3 separate regions of the Homo sapiens genome follow, and all the other regions are linked to region 2. The links come from fine-mapping of genetic effects on gene expression. A gene starts in region 2. Each other region holds a variant in brackets. All regions are shown on one strand. Distances are from middle to middle.

Region 1 (5,000 bases), 250 kb before region 2:
ACAACATTCTTTGTAAACCCAGGAAAAGTTATTCTTTAAGTTATGATACAATCCTGCTCATGGATCTACAGAATGGTAGAGCTAGGAGAAATTTGATGTTACATGTCACTTTAGTTGGCTAAACTAAAAAATGCCTTAAATCTCTCCCCACCCCTGTATCTTCCTGAGAAATTCCTACCAGACCCTCCCAGTCTTTGTTGGTCCCTTTCCTCAAACCACTGAAGCATAGCAACCCTTTGTGTCACCTTCTGATTACATCTGTCTTTTTGTAAAAAAATAGAGATGGGAGGCTGGGCATGGTGGCTCACGCCTGTAATCCCAGCACTTTGGGAGGCCAAGGAGGGTGGATTTGAGGTCAGGGGTTCAAGACCATCCTGGCCAAGATGCTGAAACCCCGTCTTTACTAAAAATACAAAATTAGCCAGGTGTGGTGGCAGGCGCCTGTATTCCCAGCTACTTGGGAGGCTGAGGCAGGAAATTGCTTAAACCCAGGAGGCGGAGGTTGCAGTGAGCCAAGATTATGTCACTGCACTCCAGCCTGCGTGAGAGAGCAAGACTCCATCTCAAAAAAAAAAAAAAGAAAAAAGAAAAAAATAGAGATGGGATCTTGCTCTGTCACCCAGGCTGGAGTGCAGCGGTGTGATCATAGCTTACTGCATCCTTGAACTCCTGGGCTCAAGTGATTCTCCTGCCTCAGGCTTCTGAGTAGCTGGGACTACAGGTATGCACCACCAGGCCTGGCTAACTTCTTTTTTACGTGTGTAGAGATGGCGTCTTTCTGTGTTGCCCAAGCTCGTCTCAAACTCCTGGTCTCAAGTGATCCTCCTGCTTCGGCCTCCCAAAGTGCTGGTTTTGGGAGGCATGTAGGTCACTGTGCCTGGCTAACATGTCTGTCTTTTATTCAATTATGAGCTTTTTGAACGTGGGCCAGGAATGGCTGCTGTAGAGTAGTGATTAATTGCCAAGGCTCTAGAGCCAGGCTATCTGTGTTCAAATTCTTGTTTTATCACTTATAATCTGAGTAACCCTGAGCAAGTTACTGGATAGCTCAGTTTACTTCATCTGTAGAATTAGGGTAATAGTAGGACATTCCTTATAGAGTATAAGGACTAAATAAATTAATATACATAAAAGTTCCTAGACCACACCTTCCCCTAGTAGGCCTTCAGTGAATTCAACTATTATTACTACTCGTTTTGTCTTTAGTTCCCATCATAGCATCTGGTGCATGTCACATAGCACACATTTAATACATTTAATGTACTTATTACATGCTAATTATGTGAGCAAAAGTGCAAACAGAGGTAGAGAAGAAGTGATCTTTGTGGGCTGGATTAAGGAGATTTGAACAACTGATCGGGTTTGAAATGGGAACTTCTAGGGTTTGTAGAATGTGGATAGATAGGTGGATTAATTCAGGAAGCATTCGTAGAAAAAACCCTGCCCTGGGAAATTTATGCCAGTTGGTAAGTATAGAAACTGAATGTGAAAAATAAATCAGCATTAAGCTGATTACATCTCAAGTTAGTAGCAGACCTGCTATCAAAATTCCATCTCTCTCCTCCCCAGTGTCTGCTGAAGTTTTAGGAATATAATGGATTTTAATTAATTGAACAATTCACTTGAAGAGAAGCAGGAAGAAGTCAGGAATGTTCCTTAACTCTGGGGCATCTATTTTATGCATACTGGAGAAATTAAGATAACAGAGTAACACTCCCACAGCCACCCAAAAGTAAGGGGCATCTATTTTATGCATGCTGGAGAAATTAACATAGTAGAGTAATATTCCCACAGCCACCCAAAAGTAATTTTACAATGGTTTAGAGATTCCAACCCCTTGATTCTTCTCCTCCTACATTTATTGTCATTTTGCCTTTCATAAATTGTTCTTCCTTTTGAAACTCATCTGCGCTGTGTTTTTGTAAATCAAAGCCGGGCTAACAATGCAGGCTCTGCTCTGTGATTGTGCTTAAAGAGAGGCTGTATCACAAAAGAAATGAGGGGTCTTAATTTGTCTTTTTTAAGGACCTGCATAGTTATTGAGGTTGGTGTAATTCTCTTTGAGATTTTTGTTCTTTTGTCACTGAGCGATTGTTCTTCAGCTGATGAGAGTAGATCAGAGCAAGAGATGGGGGACTGCTGTATCACAGGGATCAGGATTGGATTGTGAGATTCACCTTCGTTCTCTCCCC[A/G]TTCCAAAATTGGTGGCCTGAATCAGGACTCTGTAGTGGGTGACCTAGGTCTGTGATGCACATTTTATTTTGAGTCTCACTTTACTCCTCTGTAAACGGGGATTATGACACATACCTCCCTGTCAAGTGGTCGTGGGTTTCAGGAAGATGCAGCTCTGGTGACAATATAGGACAGAGCCCTAGGGGCTTAGTAGGTGCTCAATAAATGCTTCTTTCCTTGCTCTGCTTTTCTAAGTTTCTTTCCCTGAGAGGCTCAATGTGTTTATATGAATAGTGGAATTTTCCTTAAGCATATTTAAATTGACATGGACATATGAAAATTAACACATATGTGAAACTTTTATTTTGCTTATGTGGAAGTGTGTGTGTGTGTGTGTGTGTGTGTATGTGTGTGCCTAAGCACCTGGTGGGGGCACATGCAGTTGAAAGTGTGACAATATTCCTAGAACAATTCCTTGCATAATCCCTTTAACTCTACCTTTTTCCCCCCACTTTTAAGTTCAGGGGTACATGTGCAGGATGTGCAGGTTTGTTATATAGGTAAACGTGTGCCATGGTGGTTTGCCGCACAGATCACCCCATCATTCAGGTATGAAGCCCAGCATCTATTAGCTATTCTTCCTGATGCTCTCCCTCCTCCCACTCCTCCCACAGGCCCCAGTGTGTGTTGTTCCCCAGTTCTACCTGTTTTCCCCCCTTCCATCAATAAAGCAAATCGACTAACCAAGAGGATAGAAAACCCTTGATATTTGTTACAAGCATGATACTTAAAATTCAAAATATACAAGCAGTGGTCATTGTAAAAATATACTGCACATACAAAATGAAACACAAACCTTAGTAAACTTTACAAAATGTTATTACAAATAAGGATTTGGTGAGGCAAAAATCTGTCAGTTGGTAGTGTGGGGAACTGCTGTGTGACAAATTAATGTTCACTGAATTGGCTTCAAGTTGCCCCACCTATCCCCTCCCCAATTTGGCTGTGTCGTAGGCAGGGAAGCTTTGCTCTGTCCCTAAGACCGTGGGACTCTGGGACCTCTTTTATCCATCCCACTCATTTTTGGACTTTGAGATAAGTAATTTTTACCTATCTATGTTCAAGGGGCATAAAAACTATACAAAACAGAGGGAAAATACTTTTAGTCAACATGAAATAGGTGCAATTACACACTATCTTAAGAAAAATGTCTGTAGGAGCAATTTCACTTCAGAATCCATTTGACTTTTCAGCCTTCATACCCAGAGCGGTCGCTGTTGGGAAGAAGAAAAGTGCAGAGACCTATTGAAGACAGGGTTCCAAGCCTGCTGCTTCTGAGCTCTGTGACCTTGAGCAGATTACATAAGCTGAGTTTGTGTTTCCACCTGAAAGGTGGGAGTCACTGTAACTCCTCACAGAGTTGTGGCAAATGGCATTCTATAGCAGAGTTTGGCCTACTTTTCCCGTTTTGCCTCCCCTAGACCATGGCCCTCAGGATGCAGGAACATGTGTCAGGTGGGGATCAATCCAGGGGCCTGGGGGAGATCCCCTAACTTTCCCAGCTGGTTCTCCGGTGATGGCTTGCCCACGGCCCAATGGCTCCAGTCCCTTCTCGTGCTGGCTGGAGGGAGAAGAGTCAACAGCACCCAAGGGCACAGATGCCATCACTGGGGGAGTGTAGCAGAGCCCTTGGGAACACCAAGTCAAGGGGCAGGGGCAGGGTGGAAGGCCCGCCATGAAAGGGCTGGGCAGGGAGCGCACAGGAGCAAAAGTCAGGCAGAGGAGCTAGTGAAGTGTCCGAAAACGGTCTCCAAGCACGTGGCGCTCTGGTCATCTCCCTGCACCTCACAGATCACGTTTAGTTTCTTTACGGAAAGAGGCAGGCGTCGGGAGCAGGGAGGCTGCGGAGGACTGCAGCTCCCGGGTGACGGCGTGGAGGGCGCGGGAGAACGAGGGACATGGGTCAAATCCTCCCGCCTGCTTCCTCTGCCCTTGCAACAGCTTAAGGGAGCACGGACGTGACAATCACCACCGGTTCTTTTGAAATGATGAGAAACCAAGTCTCAATGCACCAACGCTGATTTCAGCCATTGCGGAGCGAAGATTTAAGTCCAGCCCTCCCGAACCTCAGTCCAGAGCCTGGAGTTTCCTAAGCGTTTCCAGTGCCAGAGCCCCAGCCAGGAAGTGAGCCGTGTCGCCCTTCCCGTAGAGGTCTTGGTCACACAGAAGGCCTCTGCCGTGGCTCTTTTTGTAGGTAGATACGCGGGCAAATGTAATGCATCTTAATGTCCTCGTGACCAACTCTGTCGTGATTTCTCGCTTTATTCCTGCTCACGCGCGCAGCCCTTCACCCATGTCACCGCTGGCAGACAGAGGCACCTGCGTCCTGGTGAAAAGACACCACGCTGCCCAAGAAGGCTTGTGCAGTTTTCAGAAAACTCCCCGCTCGCAGGTCCCCTTTCACTTCTTCTGGGTCCCTGGCCACCACACCCTTTTGTGTTCCTACTGCCCTTCTGTGCGTGGCGGGCACCCAGCCAGCGGTGCAGGCTGTAAGCACAGCTGTGTAGACCGCGGCGGAGGGAGAGCCGCTCCCTAGAGGGCGAGATTTGGGCAGGAAGAGCCCGTGTTTTCCCAAAATGAGGTTCCTGGTGCTTGGGCTGAGCGGTTTGGGGAATGTTTAGAGGGAGGGAACCCCTCGAAACATGGTGAGGCCATTCGGGGTTTGGAGGGATTTTATCACACTCAGAAGGGGGGTTTGGTTTGGATTCTACGTATCCACAAGTTGCCCCTAGGTGTGGGGCCCTGGCAGCTGTGGAATGTTGCTAGAG
Region 2 (5,000 bases):
TTTTCCTGACTTTCTAATACACATTAATTTTGTAAGAAATTTTCTCAAATGAAACAAAATCTAGCTTCAAAAACTTAAAAAAAATGTTTTTGCTCTTTTCTCTCTGATTTGCTTAATTGCAGCAAAAGTCGATTTCTTTCCTTTTTCTTCCAAAATTTGCTTTTCTCTGACAATCAAAATTCCACTAAGAGTAGGAAAAAGTCATAGATGTGGTATGGAGTGAAAGGTAAGTATCATGCTTAATATTCCTTTGTATATTTTCATCCTAGGCCAGTACTTAGAGAAACTATGACATAGTTAAAATGTGAATTCAGCATTATTCGTCTCTCTTTTCAGCAATTTCTTTTTCCAAGTCTCTCCAGATGACCTCAATGAATCATAAAGCTGAAAACAACATAAAAATATTTTTGCCTAAATGTATCACTTTATAGATGTGGAAAATGGGACTCTGTGAGGGGGATGTATTTGTATAGGATAAGGTAATCAGCCATAACTCAAACTCTGGTCTTTTCTAGTTCAGTTTTCTCTCTAGTTGGTCTAGGAAGCCTCCTGGTGCTTCAGTTTTCTTACTGTAAAATGGGGATGATAATAATAGTATCTACCTCATAGAATAGTCTCGAGTATTACATGAGAGTAGAACACTTAGAACAATGCTTGGGCTATGGAAAGTTTCTGACACTTGTTTGCTGTTATTATCATTATTGTACTTCCACATGGTGCCAGCAGGCTGCCCAAGGTGCACACACTAATGGAAATACCCCATTTGGGGACCATGCTGCTGTCTTCCATTCTCAAAACACGTCACTATAAAAATTTCCTCTTGTGACATTCTATTTCCCCAGGGCACTGTTTCTCTGCTGGGTGACACTGGAAGGGTAATTGGTTTTATTCAGATAGATGAACTCCATGTTAAAATATTGCTTAATGTTACCATTGCCTAGTAATAATACCTTAACTCAGTGAAAATATATGCGCCTCCATAAACCTTAAAAGGCTGCCTTTAATGGGGCGACTTCAGATTTACCTGGCAGGTGAGTAGGTAAGTCGTTTTTCATCAAACAGGTCTTTTGTCTTACCTTGAGTTACTACCTTCTCTGCTAGAATGCATGGGGCCAGCCAAGCATCCTCATCACTCTCACCTCTAAGTTCTGGAAAATGAATGCCAATTATGAAGTGGGTGAGCATTTATGATTTAGAGACCATTTTATTCCTTTGTTAAGGTCAGGTGAATGGAACTTTACTTGAGCAGTGAAGAGAAACTAGTCCTCACTTCTAAGTTTATCATGCTTTTGGGAAGCAGGTAATCATCTAATAGATAGGAAAATAATTCTGAGAGTGTGATGGAAAGAAGTATTACCTGTCATTGAGGAAAAATACTGTATAGGGCATGCCCCACCCTGAATCTCAGGAACCCTGAGAGCCAGGTTTGAAATAGCCCCTGGTGGTGGCTTCACCTAGAAGGAAGTTTGACGGACCCTTCTGTGATGTCGCTTGCAATCATCTTGGGCATGGATTCCCCCAGTCTTTGGTTCCTCTCTTCATCTGTCCTCCCTCCCTGACTCCCAACTTCATACCTGGTCCCGTTCTTCCAGAGCATTCTACCTTATTGACATTGTTCATGAACTAGGGGAACCCTGACAGTGAGTTGCAGCTTTGTGGAGCTGAAACTTTGTCACCATCCACAGCCGCCCAGCCAGCACCCAGGAGGGACCCTCTTGAGTAGCGTGTGATATTGATCTGAAGAAACTTACCTCCTCACTATTGGTATATTTTCTCCTTTTCTTCCGCACAAGAGAGAGAGATGGGGGTGGGGGGGTGAAAGGGAGGGAGGGAGGGAATGAGGGAGGAGAGAGAGCGCGAGCGAGAGAGCCCCTTTAGCAAGAAAACATCAAGAGTTTTTGAGTGTGGTGTGTGGTTCCCTTCGTCCCCATCAGTCGCTTCAATATTTCAAAATGGATCCGGTTCTGTGGCGGGTGCGAGAGTGAGGCTGTGGGGGACCTCCAGGCCCAACCTCCGCGAAGCCTCGCGGCTTCTGCGTGCCCTGGCCCCGGGAGGATAAGGATTTCCCTTCCCTCCTACTTGCGCGCGGAGCCGAGCTCTTGTTGAGGTGAGGGTTCCGGAAGCCCACGCAGCTCCGCAGGTCGGTGGTGGCCGCGGCTGCCCTGCGGGGGTGAGTGTGCCCGGCCGGGGTCGGAGCCCAGCGTGTGCCCGGCAGACGGCGGTGCCCGCGCGCCCCTCCCTCCGCGCCCGCGGTGACAGCCCAGACACCAGCCCGGGCGCTGACAGACGACTTTTCTCACTTGTCAGTTTTCTCGCTTGTCAGCAGAGCTGCTGGTAAGTGAGAGAAAACAGAGGGGCGCGAAGGCAGGCGCGGCCAGGGAGTGAGCGGGGCGCTGGGCGCGGGGCGGAGCCGGGTGCGCGGCGTCCGGGTCAGGCCCCACCGCCCGCGCCGGCTCCCGCTTTGCTCAGCCGCCGCTTTTCTCTCCCTTCTCACTTTCTCTCCTCCCCACCCAGCCCTCCTTTTCACCTCCAAACCCTTTAGCTGCGCGCTGATCGCTTCTGTGGCTTTGTTTGGGGGTAGGGGGAGAATACGAATAGACCCGAGGTGCTTTCTCTTGGAGCTGGAGTCCAATCCCAATCCCTATCTCTATCCCTATCCCTGTGCTTATCCCTGGGCATTAGCCCGGGACCATGGCTGGTTCCCGCAGCTGCCTCCGGAGCGCACCTGGGGCCATGGTTTGCCGCGATCGGAGTCCGCTCTAAGTCGGAGTCTGGGGGCGCAGAAGGGGGAGCGCGCCGAGAAAGTGCCGGGCAAACGCGCGCCGCGCCTGGCTGGGCATCGCGAGCTGGGCGAGGAGACGGGGAGGGGACAGCCCAAACTATCTCAGCTTCACCGCCAGTGGTCACCTACCTGCAGCTATGGAGTCGCCAACCAAGGAGATTGAAGAATTTGAGAGCAACTCTCTGAAATACCTGCAACCGGAACAGATCGAGAAAATCTGGCTTCGGCTCCGCGGGCTGTAAGTATACCTATTTACTTCTCCTGCCCCATTTCCCGCTCCCATCCTTATTTTACCACACAGCCGCAGTCACGACTGCTCACCCTGTTCCTGCATGGGCCTTTAAATACAACCCTAGAAGTTCCACAACTGCTGCTCTGTTAATTACAGTCACTGCTACTTTTCTTCCAACACAGAGAGGGTTGTCTTTCTGTCTTAGAATGCCTTGCTGTTCCAAGTCATGCTTTTTTGGGGGGAAGGAGAGATGTCCTTTGATGAGTCAGTTATGGTGGCCCAATACTCAATGAGGTGTTTCTGATCCTTTTTGCCCAGGGAGAAAAGTTTGAGACCCAGACAGGGACTTTTAATTGAAGGAAGAATTTTTCTCTGCAAACTGCTTGCATACACTTGGGCAGGTGGTCCAAGAACTTACCAACAGTTAAAATTCAACATGCATTCTGGCTGCTACATTTCTTTTTTCCCTCTCCTTAGCCCAGTCGAACTTCTGATATTTCCTGGGGTTCTTTTTGGTGGAGAAATGTTTACTAGAAGGAAAGGCTCTTGTGGAGAAAGGGGGGGCAGAAACGATATTGGGGTTTTCTTGCAATATTTGAACAATGAAATAGAGTGGCCAGAATTCTAGTTGCCCTGATGGATGGAGATCTCTGAATTTCATTCACTTCATTGGGTTCTGTCTGTTTTTGGGTACTGAGGAGAGGTGACCTGAAAATACATGGTATTTTCTGTAAAAATATTTCATCATCAGTGAACTGCTGGTCACTCCAGTCAGGAGCTTGAGGGATAGCTGTATATTCACAGCTTGCTCCTCAGTCACTGGGCAGGTCCCAAAGACACCTTCCATTACTACTAGATACTACTTTCATCAGTCATTTGGCATCAGATATCTAGTGTGGTTTAAAAATATGGCTTTTCTCCAAGCATATTCTCTAGACATTCTGTTTCTAACAAGGGCACTGATGGGAAAACCAGCTTCCTGCCAGTTTGTTTGTTTTGCTGCTGTTATTGTTTTTGAAAGCACACACACAAACAAAAGACAAATAAAAAATGTGTTGATCTAAGTTAGCTTGATATTCAAAGTTTCTAAGGAGAAGCATTAAGGTAGTATGTGTTTCTTTAAGGGGTCCTTATTGACAGGTGCAATTTATAAAAGCCATTCCATATATAGTCCAAGTGAGCTTCATTGCCATTGATTTCAATGGGAAACCATGCCAAATAATTTGATTTTTGACTTGTCTAGCCACCGCTAGTGGAGACTGTAAATTTATTTGGAAACCTTGTCTCTGGCTGGCAGGCTTTCCTGACAGTTTAGATGCCTGCAACGCAGCAGCTCTCGGAGTGGTGTTTACAGTAATCTCATGTTATATTTAGTGAACATTACGTCCGATTGTATTGTGCTGCACACAGAAAGTTTGTTGTGTCCACAAAGTCTGGGCCCAAAGTGTATAATGTGAAAGCGTTGTCGAGCTGGATTCCTTGCCATGCTGACTAGAGGGATTCATATCCATACACCCAGGAACTTCTTCTCTTGGACTGCTTTTCAATTTAAACCGACTCCATGGAGACATTTGGGCTAGAGACAAGTGTTTGGTCAAATCAGCAATGCTGAGGCGGGAACTTGTGTGGAAAAGCATTAGCACTTACAACACTGCGTCGTGTAGCTTTCTCAGTTTCATATCTGCTAGGCTTCTCTCTCCAAGGTGTTGCAGTGTAATGTAACTACATTTTCATTTTCTAGTCTCTTGTATCTACTCAGAACCTAGTGCTTTTGAACATGAAAAGTGTGGGGTGATTATAGCTTCACTTTCTAATTTGAAAAGGAGATGCTATTATTTGTTATTATTATACATATTTTTACCAGTATGTGATCCTTACCACTTCTTCTTCTTCTTCTTTTTAAACATAACAGCAGTGCTAGAATAAATAGCTAAAGACTCTGGAAACCAAAGCACACACTCTTTTATACAACTTGGAATAACATTT
Region 3 (5,000 bases), 43 kb after region 2:
TTTGAGGGTGTGTACTATTGTTTTAAAATCATTCTTTTTCTCTAAGTAAAATCTGAATACATTTTCTTTATTAAAAAAATACTACTGAGAAGACCAAAGTGTCCAGTCTTCTTTGATTCCTCCTCTATCCCCACAACCAACTTATCCCAGGTTCCTCCTGAGAGATTATAGCTATTGTCACTTTGTGTGTGTGTGTGTGTGTGTGTGTGTGTGTGTGTGTGTGTGTGTGTTATAATATGCATTTTTCAGCAACTTGCTTTTTCACTCACCCGTAGCTTGGATATTTTTCTATGTCAGCTCATAGAAATGTACCTCTTTTTAAAAAGTTTACAGTATGGCTAAATCACGGTTAATTGGGATGTTCTCTTAATGATAGGCACTTAAGTTGTTTCGAGTTCTTTACTGTGATAAATAATGTTGCAGCAATATAAGAAGGCTCATTATTGTGTTTATTAAGGGACAGTCTTTAAAATGCACAAATGTATTGGCTAAACTCTGCTTTCTATCTCTTTCAGATGTATTGGTGCATGTAATCAATGTTCATTGCCTTGAAAATCCCTTTTACAACATTTACACAATTTTTTAAACCTAGGTTGCATTACCTGTTTGGGTGAAAGTCATTGAATGTGGGAATCCTGCTCTTAAACTCGATGCCTTGAGGTAATTTCTATGACCTGCTGTGATATTTTCCCCTCCCTTCTTTCTTTCCTCTCTGCCTTCTTTCCTCTCCTCCCACCCCTCACTACACTTACCTCCACTCTTGTTGCAGACCCTAGATGGCTTTGCACCTATTATTTCTTGATTTATTCTATCACAAAGATAAACTTTAGTTGAGAAATTCTTTGTTTTTCCAAACAGTGTGAAAAGGTTGATTCCGTAACTTGGCTATTGTGAATAGAGCTGCATTGAACATGGGAGTGCAGGTATTTCTTTGACAAGATGATTTCAAATCCTTTGGATAAATACTAGGAAGTAGGATTGCTGGATCATATGGTAGTTGTATTTTTAGTTTTTTGAGGAACCTCTGTATAGTTTTCCATAATGGCTGTACTGTACTAATTTACATTCCTGCCAACAATGTATAAGGATTTCCTTTTTTCTCCATCTGAGATGATATCTCATTGTGGTTTTATTTTGCATTTCCCTAATAATTAACAATGTGAATTTGTTTTTGCATGTATTTGTTGGTCACTTGTATGTCTTCATTGGAGAAATATCTATTTAGGTCCCTTGCCCATTTTTAAATTAGGCTTTTTGTTTTTTTGCTATTGAATTGTTTGAGCTCCTTATATATTTTGGATATTAATACCTTATCTGATGTATGGCTTGCAAATGTTTTCTCCAAGTCTGTAGATTGTCTCCGTACCTTGTTAATTGTTTCCACTTAGATGTGGAATCTAAAACAACGAAGCTCATAGAAGCAGATAATAGAATGGTGGCTACAGAGGCTGGGGGGAAGGGAAGGAATGGGGAATTGATGGTTAGAGGTTACAAAATCTCAGTTACACAGGAGGAATTTTTTTGAAATCGATTGCACAGTGTAGTGAATATAGTTAATAATATTGTACATTTCAAAATTGCTAAGAGGGTAAATTTCTAACGTTCTTACCACAAAAAAAATTAAGTATTTAAGGTGATGGATATGTTAACTAGCTTGATTTAATTATTCCACATTGTTTTCATAAATTATAACATCACTTTGTACCCCATAAATATATATAATTACAAATAGTCAATATGTAATAAAAATTAAGATAAAGAAATGGGAAGGATATATACTGGAAATAAATTAGTAATAATAATAATAACAATAAGAAACTGAAGTTGAGCTGGTTTTCACATTGGCATAGAGCTTAATCTTTCTTATGGTTTGCATAGATTGAAGGTGTGACTCAAGCACTGTTACTGCTGACTCTGGTGAACCTCCAGTAGTAGGAATAATGAAGCATATGAAGAGACTTTGTGTGTTTGAATGAATAAATACATATTTGAAAGGGAGAAGCTTGGG[A/G]CCTGTTAGATTTACACTGGAAGTCTAGATCTGCTGTTCAATATGGTAACCACTAGCCACATGTGGCTCTTGAGCCCTTGGAATGTGGCTACCATGGTCACATGTTAAAATGATAAATAATTGAGTCTATTAGTTAAATACAATATGCTCTTAATTTCAGTTGTTTATTTTATAAAACATGACTACTTAGAAAATTTTAAATTATGTCTGCAATTCAGGGTGTCTTGCTGTTGGACAGCCCTGCTCTAGCTGTCAATCAGGAGGAAGACTGGCAGTGAGCCAGGATTGATTTTGCATCATCCTGTTTATTAGAGACATACTTAAGTTCTAATCCCACCTTTAGTACCTAAAGGTGATTAAGTCTGAATCCCAAGAAGACTTGCCTATGCTTTTTTTCTGATTGGTTTTTGAAGATTTAATATGATTTCAGTGTAAGGCTTGCTACATCAGATTTTTTTGTTGTTGTTGCTTTGGAAACATCAAATGAAGAATTTGAGGAAAATGGCAATCACTAGATTAGCCTAATAGACAGCAGATTTTTTTAAAAGTTTTTTTTTTTGCAGTCATTTGTAACGCAGCTCATAACAGTCAGGCTCATCTTGGTAGAGGATCAGAGTGGTGATTTTTGATTGATAAAAATTTCTTCCCATTAGTCTTTTTTTTTTTTTTTTTTTTTTTTTTTTTTTTTTTTTTACCATTTTTGATAGTTTTTTTTTTTTCTGCCTTTGCAAAGAAAATTGAAGCAGTGGCATTCCATTTGTGGTGAATTTGGAATCTTATGTTTTTCCATGTTGGTAAATTTAGCATTCTTCTAGAATGCTATAACTTGGTATCTATTTAAACACACATATAAGCACAAACAAACAGAAACCCACACAATACACCATTAAGTTTGCATGTCAACATATTTTTGATTTGACTTTTGTCAGTCTCTGAAGATTTTTGTTTTAATCAATAGGCTTTATTTTGTAGAGCAGTTTTAGGTTTACAGCAAAAGTGAGAGGAAGGTACAGATATTTTTCCATAATAACCCCCATCCCCACATGTGCAGCTTCCCCCACTGTCAGCATCGCCCACCAGGGTGGAGCATTTGTTACAATCAATGAACCTACATTGACAGATCATTCTCGCCCGAAGTTCAGAGTATGTATTATGATTCACTTTGGGTCATGTACATTCTACAGGTTTGGAAAAATTTATAATGAAATGTATCTATTATCGTTGTGTTATACAAAGCAATTTCACTGCCCTGAAAACTCTCTGTGCTCTGCCTATTCAACTTTTCCTCCTCCAAACCCCTGGCAATTACTAATCCTTTTACTGTCTCCATAGTGTTATACTTTCCAGAATGTCATATAGTTGGAATCATACAGCATATAGCCTTTTCAGATTTGGTTCTTCCACTCAGCAATATGTATTCATGTTTTCTCTATGTCTTTTCATAGCTTGATGTTCTCTTTTTTTTAATTTTTAGTGCTGGATTATTTTCCACTGTCTAGATGTACCACAGTTTGTTTAACCATTCACCTATAAAAGGACATCTTGGTTGCTTCCAAGTTTTGGCAATTATGAATAAAGCTGCCATTTTTTGTGGACCTGAGTTTTCATTTTATCTGAGTAAATTCCAAGGAATATATGATTCCCAGATCTGATGTTAAGAGTGTGTTTAGTTTTGAAGGAATCTGCCAAACTGTCTTTTAAAGTGGCTGTACCATTTTGCATTCCTACCAGCAATGAGGGAGAGTTCCTATTGCTCCACATCCTCTACAGCATTTGGTGTTGCCAGGGTTTTGTATTTTGGCCGTTGTAATAGGTGTGCAATGGTGAAGACTGTCTTAATATGGCCAAATCAGTGGTTCAGTTGGAATTCTCTTGTCTCAGCAGAATGGACCGAGGTATGTTCTTGATGTTCTGAGATCGACAGTGAATGTCTTCTGTGGTTGCTACTGAGGGATAAGAGAAGATGGCAGACCAGAGGATGGATTACCAGCATTTCATCTAAAACTATAAGCTGCAGCCAGCTTTGCCCCATGTGCCTATTGTGTAGGCTGTGGGGCTGGCAACCAAAGAAGTGGGAATGCTGAGTCTAAGCCAGAAAAAATTCAGTTCAGTCCAAACTCTAATTATCTTGGAGGCAGCCTTTGTTCCATTTGGTGGTTGATTCATTCCGAGCATGGTTTCTGAATTTTACTGGGGAGAGTGCACGCGTGTGTGTGTATGTGTGTATGTGTGTGCATGCACACGCTTGTGTGTGAGGTGTGGAAATATTGGTTACCTCAACAGGCAGCTTTTGTTTTCTGATAGCAGCTTGTGTAACCAGCTGTCAGGTAGAGGGGCCTCATTAGCAGAGCAGATTCCTGGGAAGGTCTTACAAGGAACAGACGCTGCCAGCACGTGGTTGGCCTGAAAAGGCACAGCTAGGTAGGTGCTCTGCTCCTCTTCCTTATGATCAAAGAGAGAAGATGCTCCCCTGTGAACAGAGAAGTGGAGCAGGGACACTATCTTCACTGTATGACCTCTGGCTGTATGTACAGATAGAGCACTCCATTCATGACATGGACGCTCAGTAAGTAATTATGGGCATGTCAGTTTGAGCCAGCCAGTAACTGATCTTAACATCCTCTCCCTGCTGTGGCAAAATCCTGACCATGGCAAACCTAGCTCTTCGTCTCATTTATGATGCTGGTAGGACTTGCTTGCTCAGAGCTGCTGCTCTCACTTTTTCTGGCACTGCCCACTCCTCCCAGCCTCCTCAGGTTTTCTGTCCAGTCTTGGAAACGTCAACCAGCCTTGCTGGGATCAGCTTCTCATGTTCCTGAGCAGTGTCCTTCAGCTGTTTAGCAATGTCTTCAAGCCCCAAATACATACATGCTCCTAATTATAGTCTGCATGCCCCACTGGTTTCTGCTAATCCCCCTACCCTCAACTCCCACTCCAGCTCGTCTCTACACCCATCTGGACCCTGGCCTTGGGTTTCAAGCTGTTACTTGTG

What was found. PIP is the estimated chance that this variant, and not a neighbour inherited with it, causes the effect. A credible set is the group of variants that fine-mapping cannot tell apart.
Region 1: its variant is the best candidate, but not a certain one, in a credible set for the expression of PDE1C in subcutaneous fat (GTEx, PIP 0.77).
Region 3: its variant is the best candidate, but not a certain one, in a credible set for the expression of PDE1C in fibroblasts (GTEx, PIP 0.51).

The regions. Positions count from the first base shown.
Region 1 is chr7:32,318,200-32,323,199 of GRCh38, reverse strand. It overlaps a transcript of PDE1C not described here. Among named protein-coding and RNA genes, the nearest start is that of LSM5, 170 kb to the left of the region's middle. The variant A/G (reference allele first, on the strand shown) is at 2,193.
Region 2 is chr7:32,068,313-32,073,312 of GRCh38, reverse strand. PDE1C (phosphodiesterase 1C) reads left to right here and starts at 2,906. Exons shown (of 18, transcript NM_001191057.4): 1 at 2,906-3,020. The coding sequence starts at 2,920.
Region 3 is chr7:32,025,309-32,030,308 of GRCh38, reverse strand. The region is part of intron 2 of PDE1C (phosphodiesterase 1C); the gene reads left to right. Among named protein-coding and RNA genes, the nearest start is that of PDE1C, 43 kb to the left of the region's middle. The variant A/G (reference allele first, on the strand shown) is at 2,009.